Linked DNA regions of Homo sapiens. The protein of the gene in region 2 interacts with the protein of the main gene of each other region in a biochemical or structural test. Each region holds a gene or a part of one and is shown on either strand. Other genes may lie near its edges. The genes, in order: REXO1 and RLIM.

Evidence for each region.
Region 1: of the proteins of RLIM (region 2) and REXO1, one has a biochemical effect on the other in vitro, tested with the Homo sapiens proteins (one study listed by BioGRID).

The regions. Positions count from the first base shown.
Region 1 is NC_000019.10:1,817,327-1,824,802, forward strand, and holds part of REXO1 (RNA exonuclease 1 homolog), read right to left. Parts: intron 7,249-7,476; coding exon of another isoform or gene 7,211-7,248; exon of another isoform or gene 6,783-7,210; intron 6,460-6,782; coding exon 6,246-6,459; intron 5,932-6,245; exon of another isoform or gene 5,689-5,931; intron 5,367-5,688; exon of another isoform or gene 4,763-5,366; intron 4,357-4,762; coding exon 4,193-4,356; intron 3,070-4,192; coding exon 2,938-3,069; intron 2,855-2,937; coding exon of another isoform or gene 2,843-2,854; exon of another isoform or gene 2,732-2,842; coding exon 2,608-2,731; intron 1,806-2,607; coding exon 1,692-1,805; intron 1,518-1,691; coding exon 1,380-1,517; coding exon of another isoform or gene 1,353-1,379; intron 1,270-1,352; coding exon 1,156-1,269; intron 455-1,155; coding exon 381-454; intron 133-380; coding exon of another isoform or gene 118-132; exon of another isoform or gene 10-117; intron 4-9; coding exon 1-3. UniProt on the Homo sapiens protein: Seems to have no detectable effect on transcription elongation in vitro.
Region 2 is NC_000023.11:74,604,384-74,611,859, reverse strand, and holds part of RLIM (E3 ubiquitin-protein ligase RLIM), read left to right. Parts: intron 1-7,476. UniProt on the Homo sapiens protein: E3 ubiquitin-protein ligase.

The DNA.
Region 1 (7,476 bases), on a different chromosome or scaffold from region 2:
TTGCTGGGGGTGGAGAAGGCAGGTGAGGGCAGCTTCGGGGTGCAGTGGGGGCGGGGGTGGCAGCAGCAGCACATCTCTGAGCCCTTCGGGACCATCCTATCCATCCATCACGCCCATTCACTGGTTGGGACCCTGGTGAGCAGGTGGGGAAGGGGGCTTGCCAAGAAGACACAGGGAGGACGGCTTCCCAGGATGGGAAGTGGCCAGGGACAGGGCCTGGGGCCTACGGGTGCTACGTTCTCTGGGTAACACAAGAAAGGCTGCCCGGGGGCCCAGACCCTGAGCCCAGGACTGTGCTGTGTCCCGAGACCCCACACCAACGATGGGGAGGCAGAAGTCTGTTGAGAACAGGCAGAGGGGACTGGGACGCCAGGGCTCACCTTTGCGACTTGGCAGCCGACAGAGCCGGCGGCAGCCGAGCAGCACATGTACTGGGTCTCCCAGCCTCCGGCCACTGCAGGGGACACAGACACACAGTCAGGGCCCGGCCAGGCCCACTCCACAGCCCCCGGGGCACTGACCACCTGCATCTACCGAGCCCTACTAGGGAGTGAGGACTGAGGACAGGAGGCCTCAGCCTCTTGGTGGAGCTGGAAGCAGACCAGGCCCCGGCAGTCGTGTGGCAGCCAGGACGCCCAGGCCTGGATCCAGGGAGACCAGTGCCCTCTGCAGAGGCCTCTTGGCAGCGCTGCCCCGGGCAGCACCCTCCAGGTATCCCTGAGGCGATGGCTTTAGGGGCCGCCACAGGGCTGTGCAAGGCTGGCCATGTGCCCTGAGCGTGGCTGCGTGGTTGCCTGGGGGATTGAATAGAACCACCAGGCCAAGGGTGGGACAAGCCCCTCCGCTCCTGGGGCCAGCAACCTCCACATTTCCATGGACCAAGGGCACAGGAAGGCAGGGACACAGGGCCTTTCAGGTGGTGGCATTTGAACCTTGTCATGGGAAAGCTCTTGTCTTACTTTTGCATAAAGAACAGGTGGAGAGAAAATGAGGCCAAGGGCTAGCCCCGGCTCTGCCAAAGACGGTGCAGCCCAGGGACCCTGAGTGGGATGGAGGGCCTGGGTAAAGCCTTACCCCAGTTCTGGGGGCCTCAAGGGAGGGCCCAGGTTCCGGGGGCCATGGGTGGGAAGGGGAAGGACCCGGGTAAGGCCTTACCCCGGTTCCGGCGCAGCCGTCCCCAGTGGTAATAACACTCCTCGTCCCGGATGCAGCGGCCTGAAGAGGACACGAGGTACTCGGTGCCACAGCGGCAGCAGGTCCTGCAGGAAGCTGTGGGTGGGGACCCAGGTGGAAGCTGAGGCTCACGCTGGGGCCCGCATGCCCGGCCTTGCCCACATCCCGCACCTGCCCACCTAGGCCGTCGCAGGCCAGCGACTCACAGTCCTTGGGCCTCTTCTCCTCAGCTGTGAAGATGATTGCGCCCCCGGGCCGCTCTGGGTGCGGGAAGGGGTAGCCGTTCTCCTTGAGCTGGTCCTGGGTGAGCAGGTACTCCCTGAGGCGGCTGTACAGGGCAGCCCCTGTGGACAGGCACAGTGGTCAGCCCCTGCCTGGGATGGCCCACGGGGCGGTAGACACCACCGGGAAAGGCGGCTGGGCCGGCAGGGGCCCACGAAGCACCGTGTGGCACAGCAGGGGCTGGGCCGGCAGAGGCCCACGAAGCACCGTGTGGCAGAGCAGGGGCAGGGCCTTACCTTTCAGGTCCTCCACCCGGGGGCTGCTTGGACGGCTGAGCGAGAAGCTGGTCTTGGCGGCCAACCTGCCCCCCAACACCACCTCGTGGGACACAACCCTGCGGCCACTGGTTTCTGGAAGGAAGGGAGGGAGGGGAGGAGGGTGTGAAGTAGCTGGCTCAGACCCCTGCCCCGCCTGCTCTCCCACCCACCCTGCCCTCCTCAGACCTCTGCCTCAACTCCCCCTTTCTGGGACAGCACCCCACTGACCCCGGGTTCCAGCCTGACCCGAACAGGAGAGGCAGACATGCGGTGAGCCAGGGACGCAGGGCAGCCGCCAGCTCTGCAGGCCCCAGAGCTGCACGGAGGCCCCACACCCAAAGTCTTCGTCCCCTCCCCTCAAGCGAAGGGGGAAGGGCGGGGAGAACAGCACGGGGGATCTAATGGCTTTCGAGGGCTTTGAGCCTTCATGGGCCACCCAGCCTGCGACGCCAACCCAGGGCCCCTCCGAGTGCTAATGCAGGCGGGGACGGGGGCAGGGGCCGGTGATAGCTTAATGCAGCCTGGAGAGGCTGCAATGAAACGCCCAGGTCTCCGCTTTCTTCCTCCCCAGAGCTTAATGCATGGAGCTCGCCCAGCCCTGGGCCTCCTGCTTTGAAGAAGCTGCCGCAGCTCCATTAGCAGGCGGCCCCTCGGCTCGGCTTGGAGACCCCACTCAGCGGAGGAAGGCGGCTGACAGCGAGGACACCAGGGCCAGGTCCGTCCTACACAGAAGCCTGGGAACCAGGCAGCAGGCAGCCCCCCCACAGCACCGCGCTTTCCTTTTGTCTGAGACTGTGGCTGAGCTCAGGGCTGTGAAGGTCCCAGCGAGGGTCCCAGCCCAGCTGCCACCCCAAGAGCAACCCTGAGCCTCCCCCGCCCACCCGCCAGGACTCACTGCTGAGGCCGGGCACAGCGCTGGGGGCCAGGCCCCTGAGCTTCTTGAGGGTGTTCACGGCCACATTCAGGTAGATGTTCTTGCTGGGGCTGCGGTCATAGGCCACCTTCTCCTCGTTCAGTGCCTGGGGGACAGGCGGTGCCCAGCTGAGGCCATGCCTGCCTGGTGCCGGGGAGCCCCAGCGGTGGGGTCGCCATGGGGTCGGGGACTTGCATCTCTCCCAGGCAGCTCCGGGTCACAGCTGCGGCTGAGAGGCCGGGGGATGTCTGGGGACCACCCTGGACCCCTAGTCCCCACCCGACCGGCCAGATAGGAACTCCAGGACCTCACCTTCTCTATGGCCTCCTGGTTGGAGGTACAGAACTTGAGACACTCCTCGATGAACAGGTTGAGATAGCGCTGGCGGATGACGGTGGGGACTTTGCCCCCAAACTCTTTGGGGATAATGGGTTTCTTTAAACTCTAGAGGGAAGGCAAAAGCTGCCATGGGTGAGGGCCTCCACAAGGCCTCCAGCGGGGAACGCAGACGCGATGAGGCCGTGCCCATGGCTGGAGGCAAGAGTGAGGTGCGCTGGGACAGATCAGCCTGGCTGCAGTAGGGACAGACACGCCAAGGCAAGACAGGAGCAGCAGGGGAAACTGAGGGCAGCGGAACTAAGGTCATGGGAAACTGAGGCCATGGGGGCACAAGGGAACTTGCTGTACTTTCTGCTCAATTTTCCTAGAAACCTAAAGTTGCTCAAAAAACATAAAGTCTATTAATTAAAAACAAAACAAGGCCAAGCGTGGTGGCTCACGCCTATAATCCCAGCACTTTGGGAGGCTGAGGCAGGAGGATCACTTGAGGACAAGAGTTCAAGATCAGCCTGGACAACGTGGCAAAACCCTGTCTCTACAAAATAAAAAACAAAATTATTAGCTGGGGTGTGATGACACCGGCTTGTGGTCCCAGCTACTCAGGAGGCTGAGGTGGAAGGATCACTTGAGCCCAGGAGGTCGAGGTTGCAGTGAGCCATGATTGCGCCCCTGCACTCTAGCCTGGGCAACAGAGACCCTGTCTCTAAACAAAAAAAAAAAACACCAACCAACCAAAAAAACAAAACAAGACAAAACAAAAAAACACCGCCAGGGCGGTCGGGCATGGTGGCTCACGCCTGTAATCCCAGCACTTTGGGAGGCCGAGGCGGGTGGATCACGAGGTCAGAAGATCGAGACCATCCTGGCTAACATGGTGAAACCCCGTTTCTACTAAAAATACAAAAACAGCCAGGCGTGGTGGCGGGCGCCTGTAGTCCCAGCTACTCAGGAGGCTGAGGCCAGAGAATGGCGTGAACCCAGGAAGCAGAGCTTGCAGTGAGCCAAGATCGTGCCACTGCACTCCAGCCTGGGCGACAGAGCGAGACTCCATCTCAAAAAAAAAAAAAAAACACCAAGGCATGGGGAGGGAAGGTGAAGGCTGTACTGCGGTGTGGAGCACGAAGGCCCGCAGGGCAGGGGCGAGGCTGGCCCTCCGCAGGTCCCATGTGGCCGGGCCTCAGGGCGTGGTCTTGGGGGTGGTGGTCCTGGCCGAGATGGGAGGGGCTACCTGTAAGGATGGACTGTGGGCGATTCGCTTAGGGATGATGGTGGTGGTAGTCTTGGACGCCATCCCCGACAATGTGCGTGTTTTCAGCTGCTGGCCACCTGGCTCAGGGCCGTTGGAGGACTGGCTGCCGCTGGCCGCAAGGGTCCTCTTGGCACCTGTGGGGGCTGGCGGGGCACAGGGGGTGTGGGCACAGGGCGAGTGGCTGCCCATCACCACGTGGCGGAGCACCAGGCAGCCGCGGCCGCTCAGCGCCAGCAGCACGTGCATCTCCGCGTGCAGGGGGCCGGGCCAGGGTGAGGGGCTGGGGCTGCGCAATGGCATCAGGCTCTAGCTGCCTTCAGGCAAGTCCATCGAGGCAGAGGACACAGGTCAGGCTGCGGAGGCCGCTGAGGACACGTCACCGGTGGGGTGGTCCAGGCCTCTGCCACGTGTTCTGACCCCAAGCCCAAGGCGTCGATGTCTGAGGGAAAGGCCCTGGCTCCCGGACAGAGGACCGAAGGGTCTCGGGTGCCCCCACCTGCTCATTGGCTTTGCCCTGCCCTGCGGCCTCTGTGTTCTGCCTTGCCCTTTGATGAAGTCACAAACCAGAGGGAGGAGGCCAGGCCTGCAGGGGCTGCTTCGGAGGGCTGGCCACGCGGGCAGCTGCAACCTGGGCATGTACGTCTGTGTGGCAGGGGGGCTTCTGGACTGGGGGCTCGGCACCGACCCAGGAAGGGGAGCTGTGAGCAGGGACATCTGGCCCTAGTCTCAGAGCAACATCCCTCGAAATGCCATCTGGCCCTGGAAGGTGCAAGGGAGGCAGGATGAGTCTGCTCATGCTACCGCGGGCCGCCCAGCAAGGAAGCAGGCTGCCCGCCAGGCTGGCACGCGCCTCTTGCAGTGGAGGGTTTGCTCTTCAGGAACGGACAGAGAACCTCCAGACTCCCTCGGCTGCACGCTGGGGGCGAGCCCAGGCAGCCACAGGAGTCCTCCAAGCCAGATGAGCCCGCCCTGCGGCACTGCCAGCACTTGGGACGCCAGACTCCCTTCAGGCGGCGGGCCCCAAGGGCACTGCGACAGCTCAGCACCCACCACAGATCAGCAACAGGACAACCCGAGCGCGGAGACACAGACGGGAAGCGTGTGGGGTCCTGGGATAGGCCCAACTCAATGATTTCCCCTCCCTGGGGCTAAGGTCTCAGCCGTGAGGGGGCTCTGGGGAGGGGAGGTCAGAGTAGCCTGGAGAGCTCTCCCTAAGGAGGGCCGTGGGATCCATGGGATCTGCAGGGGAATCGCCGGGGCTGGCCCTAAGGCTCTCCAGCCAGCGCCAGGGAGGCAGGGGCTCCAAACCAGCAGGCTGCTCAGGGTGGTCCTCGGACAGCAGCCATGCCCTCCCAGGGAGCTTGCCAGACACACAGACCTTTCCCAGCCTCCAGACCAGAACCTGCATTTTTTAGGAGCTTTCTGGGGGACCCTCATCTGTGACCTGCCTCCAGGGATACTTTCTCGCTCTACAGACACCACTGATGTGAAGACGCAGGAGACAGGACAACCCCCCGTGAAGGGTCCTGTCCACCCACCACTGAGGCCTGGCCCGACTTTCTACAAGACCCTGCTGGGGGGGAAGTGCCCCTCGGAGTAAAGGAAATACAGCCCCACTCCTGGGAAGACAGCACTCATTTCCATCAGAGGCCACGCCCCCCACTCACACGCCAGGAGAAAGCCACACCTGCAGAAGCCTGCTCCCCACCCAATGCCAGGTACCCCGACATGGCTCCCCATTCCCTGGAACCACAGGCTCAGGCCCTGGTTCAGCCCAGTCCCCAGCAGGCTGTTGGACTCCTAGTAACCCCGGAGCTGGGTCAGGGAAGGAAGGTGCTGGGCCAGGCCTCCTGCACCCCTCAACAGTCCCCATTTCACAGACAGGCAGGCTGAGGGCCCCAGGGAGGGGGCCCAAAGTCATCCCATGAGCAAGCACCATGTGGTTCAGGTGAGCTCAGAGACCTCAGGGTGCCACCTCTCCTGCCCACATGCCCACGGCCCCCCGGCACAGGCCCCCTGGGCCAGGACTCACCTGCAGCCAGGCGGGGGTTGGGGATGTGGGCGATCCTCCTCTTCTCGCCAGGGGCGGAAATGTGGACGGAGGGCGACTTCTCTGCCAGCCTGGCGGGGGCCTGCAGCAAGCTCGCCGATGCCCTCTGCGCCTGCTGGGCCCGCAGGTAGCACACCTCCTGCGCCGTCGGGGGCCGGGCCGGGGGCACCGCGGGACCCCTCCTCGGGGGCTCCACCTGCGTCACCACAAATGCTAAGGCCTGGCAGCACAGCGGGGGCACCTGGAGCAGGCGACCCCGGGCAGGCTTGGGAGAGGGTGGCTGGAGCTCGGGGGCCGGAGGCACCACCTCCCTGGCTGCCTTCTGAGCTGCTGGGCACACTGGGGGGAAGCAGCAGGGGGCAGTGGTCCTCAATGCCATGTGGCTCCAGGCTCCCCCACTCCCAGTGTCTCCCGGTGCCCAGGCTATGTCCTCAGCCCTGATAAGGCACGGGTGGGCGGGACTACCCCGATTACACTGGCACTCCAATCCAATCCCACTACGCCTAATCTTCCTCAAAGCCCCTCCTCTGGGGAGGCTCTGGGACTGGAGCAACTGGGACTCTCCTGGCTGCTGACCCCGGAGCCAGGCTCTCTGCTTGTCCTGCACTACCTCGCCACGTCTGCACAGGGGCCTGACAAGCGCTACTGTCTCCGGGCTACAGAGGACACTGGAGCTCAGAGCTGGACAACCGGCCCAGGCCCAGGCCGCACACGGCGCAGCAGGCCGTCTGCCGCACTCTGGGGGAGGTCACCCTGGGGCTGCTGACCTGCTCTGTCCCTCGCCCCAGCACCGTGGCAATCTAACAGGAAGGGGCAGGGCCAGCTCCCTCTGGAACTCGGGCAGCGTCAAAGATAAGGTGTCTTCAAAAAGCTCATGGAAAACGTGCGTTGTGACGAAACTTGCATGGCTTTCAAGTTTTTTTGCCCCAAAATAAACTGATACTAACTTGTCATAACATGTCTGAACCAGACGGAGTTTGAGGCACTAAAAAAAAGTAAGACATCAGTTAGAACAGAGCCCCAGTCAGAGCAACAGGAGTTCTGCTAAAATTGAAGCAAATGTTAAGCATCAAATTTATGGTAAAACTTGGGTGGAAGAACGAATGGGGAAATCACTGATGCTTTACAAAAAGCGTCACAGATTTACAGGAACAATGTCCCAAAGAAATCAGAAGTTTATGAATGGATAACTCATTTTATGTATTTATCTTTT
Region 2 (7,476 bases):
TGAGAATGTTAACTTTTATAGAGGAAACCAAAAACCCAAAGAGGTTAAGTATAATTTGTCCTCAGTTAAATAGCTTTAAGTGGTGGAGCCCTCATTTTATCCCAGGCCTGTCTGACGTTATACTTCTGGGTTTGATTGCTGTCTAATTAGATAGGAAATGCAATGAAAATGAAAGGTTGTAGTAAAAAGTCTGTAGGTTATGTTGCATCAGAAACTTTTGTTAATACTTAAAGGTTATCCAGCAATCCCCCCTTTTCGTCTGTTACGTTCCTGTTTCAGCTATTATGCATGTTTACACATATTTATTGTTCTATTTCACAGGCCCTGTAATTGGATGGGCTCATTGATAGATGTTAAATGGATAGCTCCTTGTATATCATTTGATAAACTTAATTTAAAATCAGAAATGATTTTAAGAAATAGCTTAATAATTAAATGATCTGGAAATACTAGGCTGGTTGGATATCTTTGAGGTTAGTGAACATGTAGTGAGCCTTAATATAGTAGTAGGTCAAATGAGGCATCTGCATTTATGGAATTATATTATATGTACATTAATTTTTCCATGGCCATGGTGGATTAGAAATAGAGCAAATCACCAGCCAGCCTCCTGTTCTCTTCATTTACCATAGAGTGGATGACAAATTAGAGAATAAAAAGTCTTCTGTCAAACCCAAACCAATGAGGGCCTAGAATTTTGTGCCACTGCCTAGAACTGGACAGGTTTTTCTTTAACACAAAGATTTCTAAAACCTATGGCCCATTGATTTCAGAAAGTATCTAGTTTACATAATAAATTGAAGTTCTGATGTCCAATATAAGAAAGTAATAACACTTCTGTATCTATTTTTCTTTCATTTTTTTTTCTCAGCCTCAAACATGAAAGTTTCCCAGATAATCCAGCAATTCATTTCTCTTTTTATCAATTGAGGTATTTTTATTTATTTATTTTTTATTTTTTTATTTTTTTGAGACGGAGTCTCACTCTGTCGCCCAGGCTGGAATGCAGTGGTGCACTCTCGGCTCACTGCAACCTCCACCTCCTGGTTTCAAGCAATTCTCTTACCTCAGCCTCCCAAGTAGCTGGGAGTACAGGCGCTCTCCACCACGCCTGGCTAATTTTTGTATTTTTAGTAAAGATGGGGTTTCACCATATTGGCCAGGCTGGTCTCGAACTCCTGACCTTGTGATCTGCCCACCTTGGCCTCCCAAAGTGCTGGGATTACAGACGTGAGCCACCGCGACTGGCCAATTGAGGTATTTTTTAAATATACCTCAATTGGGGGAATATATTTATGAACTTGTGGTTTTTCTCCTGACATATATAGTTGGTATTTTTGCTCTAGATTTTCTTATATTTTAATGTTCCAACACAAGGGTTTTTTTTTTTTGGTTTTTTTTGTTTGTTTGTTTGTTTGTTTGTTTGTTTTTTGGTTAGGAGGGCAGGACGAGTTTTGCTCTGTCGCCCAGGCTGGAGTGCGGTGGCACGATCTTGGCTCACTGCAACCTCCGCCTCCTGGGTTCAAGCGGTTCTCCTGCCTCAGCCTCCCGAGTAGCTGGGATTACAGGCACGTGCCACCACGCCTGGCTAACTTTTGTATTTTTACTAGAGATGGAGTTTCACCATGTTGGCCAAGCTGGTCTTGAACCCCTGACCTCAGGTGATCCGCCCGCCTTGGCCTCCCAAAGTACAGGGATTACAGGCCTGAGCCACCGCGCCTGGCCACCAATCCAAGAGTTTAATTTCATTAGTCACAGTAGCACCTACATATCTGTGAGACAAATAATCTGTAGGCAGAGAGCACTTGGTGCATTACATAGATTGGTGGATTTCTTGCAATAATTTTGCAACTACAGGTTGGTTTGCTTTTATAACATTTGAGAGTCTAATGGCGTTTCCATGATGATGAACATGTTACTTCCTGGGAGAAAGGAAGTATTTGTGTTTGATGTTTAAAATTTTTTTCTGGAATGACAAAAGGTCCCTTCTGATCTCCCCTTGACTATAGGAGGAAAAGTGTTAACTACAACTTTTGTTTTTTATTGACCAATGATCCCTTTAGTGCTGATTATAACTAAGGAGACCATATGAATTATCTAAACTGGGACACTTTTGAGAGTGAAAGGGAGAGCCATATTACTGATTACTTCAGTACAAGTGTAAACCCTTACTCTTCTGGACAAACCAAAGATATATTGTCACCCTCTTCATGTTATTTTTATGTAGGTATACTAGTTCAGGAAGGACAATTGTCAGCATGGTTGGTCTTAAATACAAAATTACTTCCTCAAATAACTGATTGGTATAGATAATACTTTCTTTTTTAGTTAAGTGATTTTAATTTTTTTTTTTTTTTTTTTTTTTTTTTTTTGAAACGGAGTCTCGCTCTGTCGCCCAGGCTGGAGTGCAGTGGCGCGATCTCGGCTCACTGCAAGCTCTGCCTCCCGGGTTCACGCCATTCTCCTGCTTCAGCCTCCCGAGTAGCTGGGACTACAGGCGCCCACCACTACGCCTGGCTAATTTTTTTCTATTTTTAGTAGAGACGGGGTTTCACTGTGTTAGCCAGGATGGTCTTGATCTCTTGACCTTGTGATCTGCCCGTCTCGGCCTCCCAAAGTGCTGGGATTACAGGCGTGAGCCACCGCACCCGGCTAAGTGATTTTAATTTTAAAAATTGGCTTCAATCTTTAAAAACCTGATTTTTGATGGAAAAATCTTAGGTCCTTAAAATAGTGCCTTAGTTACTGATGAACACCAACATTGTCAGTTATCAGTGATTTTTACCTTAGTAACTTAAACACATGCACTCCTTGGGTTTTTGAGTCATTTTCTTTTTGACTTCTTAGGAATAATGAGAGAAGCAAGTCAAAACGAGTTTATGGATAAGACCAAATTATAATTTAGTGGCATAGCTTGATAATAAAAGAACATAAAACGGGTAATTGAAGATTAAATTCACTGTCTAGATTAAAGTATTTGACTGAGATGAAATGTCATAATGGTTTCCTTTTTTAACTAACTTGATCCTGTAGATCAACCGCATTTGGCATGGTCTTCAGTCCTTTGATTTACTGAAGTTCTTAACACTCTTTCAGTTTTAACTGTTTTAGAGCGTTTTAGTAAAAGTTGTTTGAGCTGCAAGTCGGTGCGTACATGAGGAACATTCCTGAGTCCTTTTAGTTTTTCTCTGCTGTCCTTTTCAACTGGTAAAGATAGAAGAATGTAAGTGGAGGCTAAGCTAACTGCCATTCAGATATTTTATAATCTCTTATTGTTATGGTAGCATGAGCAGTGGGGGATACCTTGGTAGCATTTTCTGATAGGCCACTCTTGGAAATTATCAACAAATTTTTTAGTTGGTGAGAGGTATCATGCAATAAGGAAAGTCAGTGAGACATTAACCCTGCCTGTTCTTTTTTTTTTTTTTTTTTAGGAATGCTTTATATTTCTTTTCAAAAAGATAACTGCGTGAGTGGAGATAGAAGTACATTGAGTGAAATGGTAGTGAGAAAAGCAGAGCTTATAAGCTTATGTCCTAGTTATTTGTGCTGTTTCCTAAACTTAATATTTCTTAATATCGTAATGTGGTGTAGGTTATATCTTATTTACAGTTACAGATTCATAGAACTGGAAAGTACCTTGCAGATGGTTTAATCCAATACTCTAATATTGATGGAGACTTCTCTGGCACAAGAGGTTAAATGAATTGGCCAAATCCACATAACCAAGTTACAACCAAGACTGGATTTCAGTATCTCTTTTTTCCTTTCACAGAGCTGAGTTTCACCCTGCTACCCATGTGTAGAATAAAAAAAGATACCTGGTTGTTAGCAAATATTTTTCTGTTACAAATACCATAACATTTTAATTAAACATTCTATATATGAAGAATCCCCAACACTTTTGGTGCCTACATACGTAATGATATGATGGTACTTTTTGTTTTCTGGCCTTAAATTCAGCAGTTCTTTGTGATTTAACTTTTAAAAAACTGAATAAAGTATTTTTCATTTTGGTGATGGTATTTAACATTTTCTTCATTGACACAGATCACATGTCACTAGTTCTTAAAGGACTCCTTTATGAAGTTCTTTTTTGTTTTTTTTGTGTGTGTGTGTTTTTGGTGTGTGGTTTTTTGTTTGTTTGTTTTGAGACGGAGTCTCGCTCTGTCACCCAGGCTGGAGTGCAATGGCACGATCTCTGCTCACTGCAACCTCCACCTCCCAGGTTCAAGCAATTCTCCCACCTCAGCCTCCTGAGTAGCTGGGATTACAGGCACCTGCCATCATGCCTGGCAAATTTTTGTATTTTTGTAGAGACAGGGTTTCACCATGTTGGCCAGACTGCTCTTGAACTCCTGACCTCAGGTGATCCGCCCGCGTCGGCCTCCCGAAGTGTTGGGATTACAGGCATGAGCCACTGTACTCAGCCTCCTTTATGAGATTCTTGATGAAGCTCTGTTGCAAACAAAATGGATTGCCCTTCTCTTGTCAGTGTGACACATTTTTGTGTTCATACCCATAATTTTTTAAAAATTGGCATGTCCTGCTTTAGAACTTTATTATAGAATTTGGAGCTTGAATGAACACATATGCACAAGGTGAAATATTCAACATGATTTAGTAGTTAGTTGATGTTACGTTACCTTAATTCCTCCCTCCCACCCACCCCACTTTTTTTAAAAAACGAGGTAATTTCTTCCATATGACTTTTTAAATTTTGATATGGAGTCTCTGTCACCCAGACTAGACTGCTGTGACGTGATCTGAGTTCACTGCAACCTCTGCCCCCAAACTCAAGTGATCCTCCCACCTCAGCCACATCAGCTCCCAAGTAGCTAGGACCACAGATGCGCGTTACCATGCCCAGCTAAGTTTTTGTGTCTTTGGTAGAAACGGTTTCACCATGTTGCCCAGGCTGGTTTTGAACTCCCGGGCTCAAGCGATCCGCCGACCTCGACCTCCCAAAGTGCTAGGATTACAGATGTCGGCCACCACACTCGGCCAGCACCATGCCCAGCCAAGATGACTCACTTTTTAAAATTGGTTTTTACACAGGCATTTCACTTGGTGTTTCAGAATTTAGTTTTGTAAGGTCTGTTTTATTAACAGTATTTTTGGATGCCTTAAGTCTCCTTAATTGGGTACTATAATGTAGTGTGTCCATCAAATATAACATGCCTGTGTTTATACTTAGCACCAGGTCTCCTGACCTGTTAGTACTGAACAATATGTTTTAAATAACTTTTTGCCTTAACATTATAACAATTAAATTTTTTAAAAGTTTGGTGTGCATGGATTAGAAGAATTAAATGAGATACTACATTTAGCAGTAATCAGAAACAGTCATTTGCATAATTTATATTAATATATAATAATGACTAGAAGAAGTTGAGATTATTAACAATACTTTAAAATTCTCAAAGTGAATAAAATCTGTTTTAAATAAATCTCAGGGTTGGTGTTCTTGCTGGCCTTTCCTCCCCAGAATTAAACTTACTGGATACAGTCCCATTCATTGACCAGATGAGTAGCTCTTTGAAACGATTGGGCAAAATTTCTCATTTGGTTTCTTGTTTCCAGGAATGGATTTGGATATATTGGCACACAGTACTCTAAAAGAAATAAGGTTAATAAAATATGCTGTTTATCTAAGGAGCAACTGTATTTTTAAAAATTACTAAAAGTTGACTTATTTAAAAATAAGTCCATCTAGGTTTGTGCTGCTTACAAAAGGTGTTTTGTCATTTTGGAATTTTTCATACAGGGAGTGAACATGGTATAAAAAGCTCATAGATTGAATAGTTTAGTCATACCTATTGGGATTGAAGGAAGGAATGTGTTTTAAAGTATAGAGTCTTGGGATATGTTGGGAGGCAGTTGTCTTAGTGAAAAGTTGACTGGATTTGGAATGCAGAGACCTGGATTTAATTACTGGCCCTTTCCCACTTACTAGTCACATGGTTTTTGGTAAATCACTTTCTTTCTCTGTGCTTCTGTTTGTCACCTGTAGAGGTGGTGATTCCTAATTCATGGGATTATTGTGAAGATTAAATGAAATACAGGTGTAAGGGCTATGTAAATACAGGGTGATGAGTATTGCTTATAGCCAGAGAGAGACCTAAGTGACTTCAAAACAGTTATATTTCATTGTTTAAATTACTGTATGTTTCACGGGTAATCTTTTCATAGAAAAACAGCTGATGCTAATCATATGCTGAAGTCAGAATTTCTGACTTATCTGAGATAACTAAAGAAATGGATTTATGACCTTCTCTTTTACGATGATGTTGAAAGATCCCAGCGGTGTATAAGGATTCTCTTTTTCCTCTTGCTACTTAAGCTAGAAATGTACCACAATGTTACTCACTGCAAAGTAGAATCTGGAGACCTGTTTTGTTAATGTTATTCTTCACTAATATTTTCACACCCAAAATGGAGATAGAGCTGTATTTGATCATTTGGAGTATGGTTTTCTGGTATTTTTGGCATGCCTAAACTTTAAAATGTTTGTTTGCACTTAGTAAACAATAGTGGCAGATTATATCTACCTGGGGCAGAACTTGTGGTTTTTAGATTTATTCCATTTCTTTCTTTTATGCCGCTTAGATAGTGAAGGTCTGCTTAAAATAAGACCAGGCTCATTGGGTGTGTGAGAGTAAAATTAGTTTACAAGGCATTTGAGAGCATTGCCTTGATTTCCATTTTCTTTGCAAATGTAATTATGTCTAGTCCAGGGGACCTCTGCAGGTATTGTAGCCATAGCTTACTCTTTGAATTCCCTTATAAGGGAGGGAGTGCCTTGCCAGTGCTGAAATCTCTTGACCCCCAATTCCAGCCCAGGGGAAATGCTAAGTTAAGGCAGAAAGGATGGAGGCTTTGAAATAAGTGTGTTGCAGGAGTATCATGGGGAAAATATTTTCCTTGATTGTCTCTGGCATATATATGGAAGGGTAGCAGGAAAGGAGACAGCAGCATATTATTATTATTGAAGAGGTAGTGATTTGGATTTGTTCACATGTTGCTTTATGAGTGTGTCTCATTAAAATTTTGAATTAAATAAAATTTAGAATTCCCTCTTTCATGGAACGGAATCCAAGCTCATCAAGCAGGAGCTGTTTAGGATTCAAAAATCTCTGAAATCAGTGTCAGGAAAATTTTGAATGGAGGTAAAATGTTTTGTCTCTAGTTTCTATGTAGGAAATGGTAGAAATTCTAAAAGGTCAAGAATGAATCTTGAAGATTCATGAGCATAGGAAAGACTTATCTATCCCATGAGTATTGAACATTGTAGAGTATTGAACCTTATTGTTTTATTTTTGGAAAACATAAAGGGGATGCAAATAGTGGGTTTGTAGAGCATGAAAAATATATTGGGGACATTTGAAACTCTCCCTATTTGGGATTTCTCTATCTTACAAAGAAATACTTTAAAGCTGTGCTGCCCAATATGGTAGCCATTAACCACTATGTGAC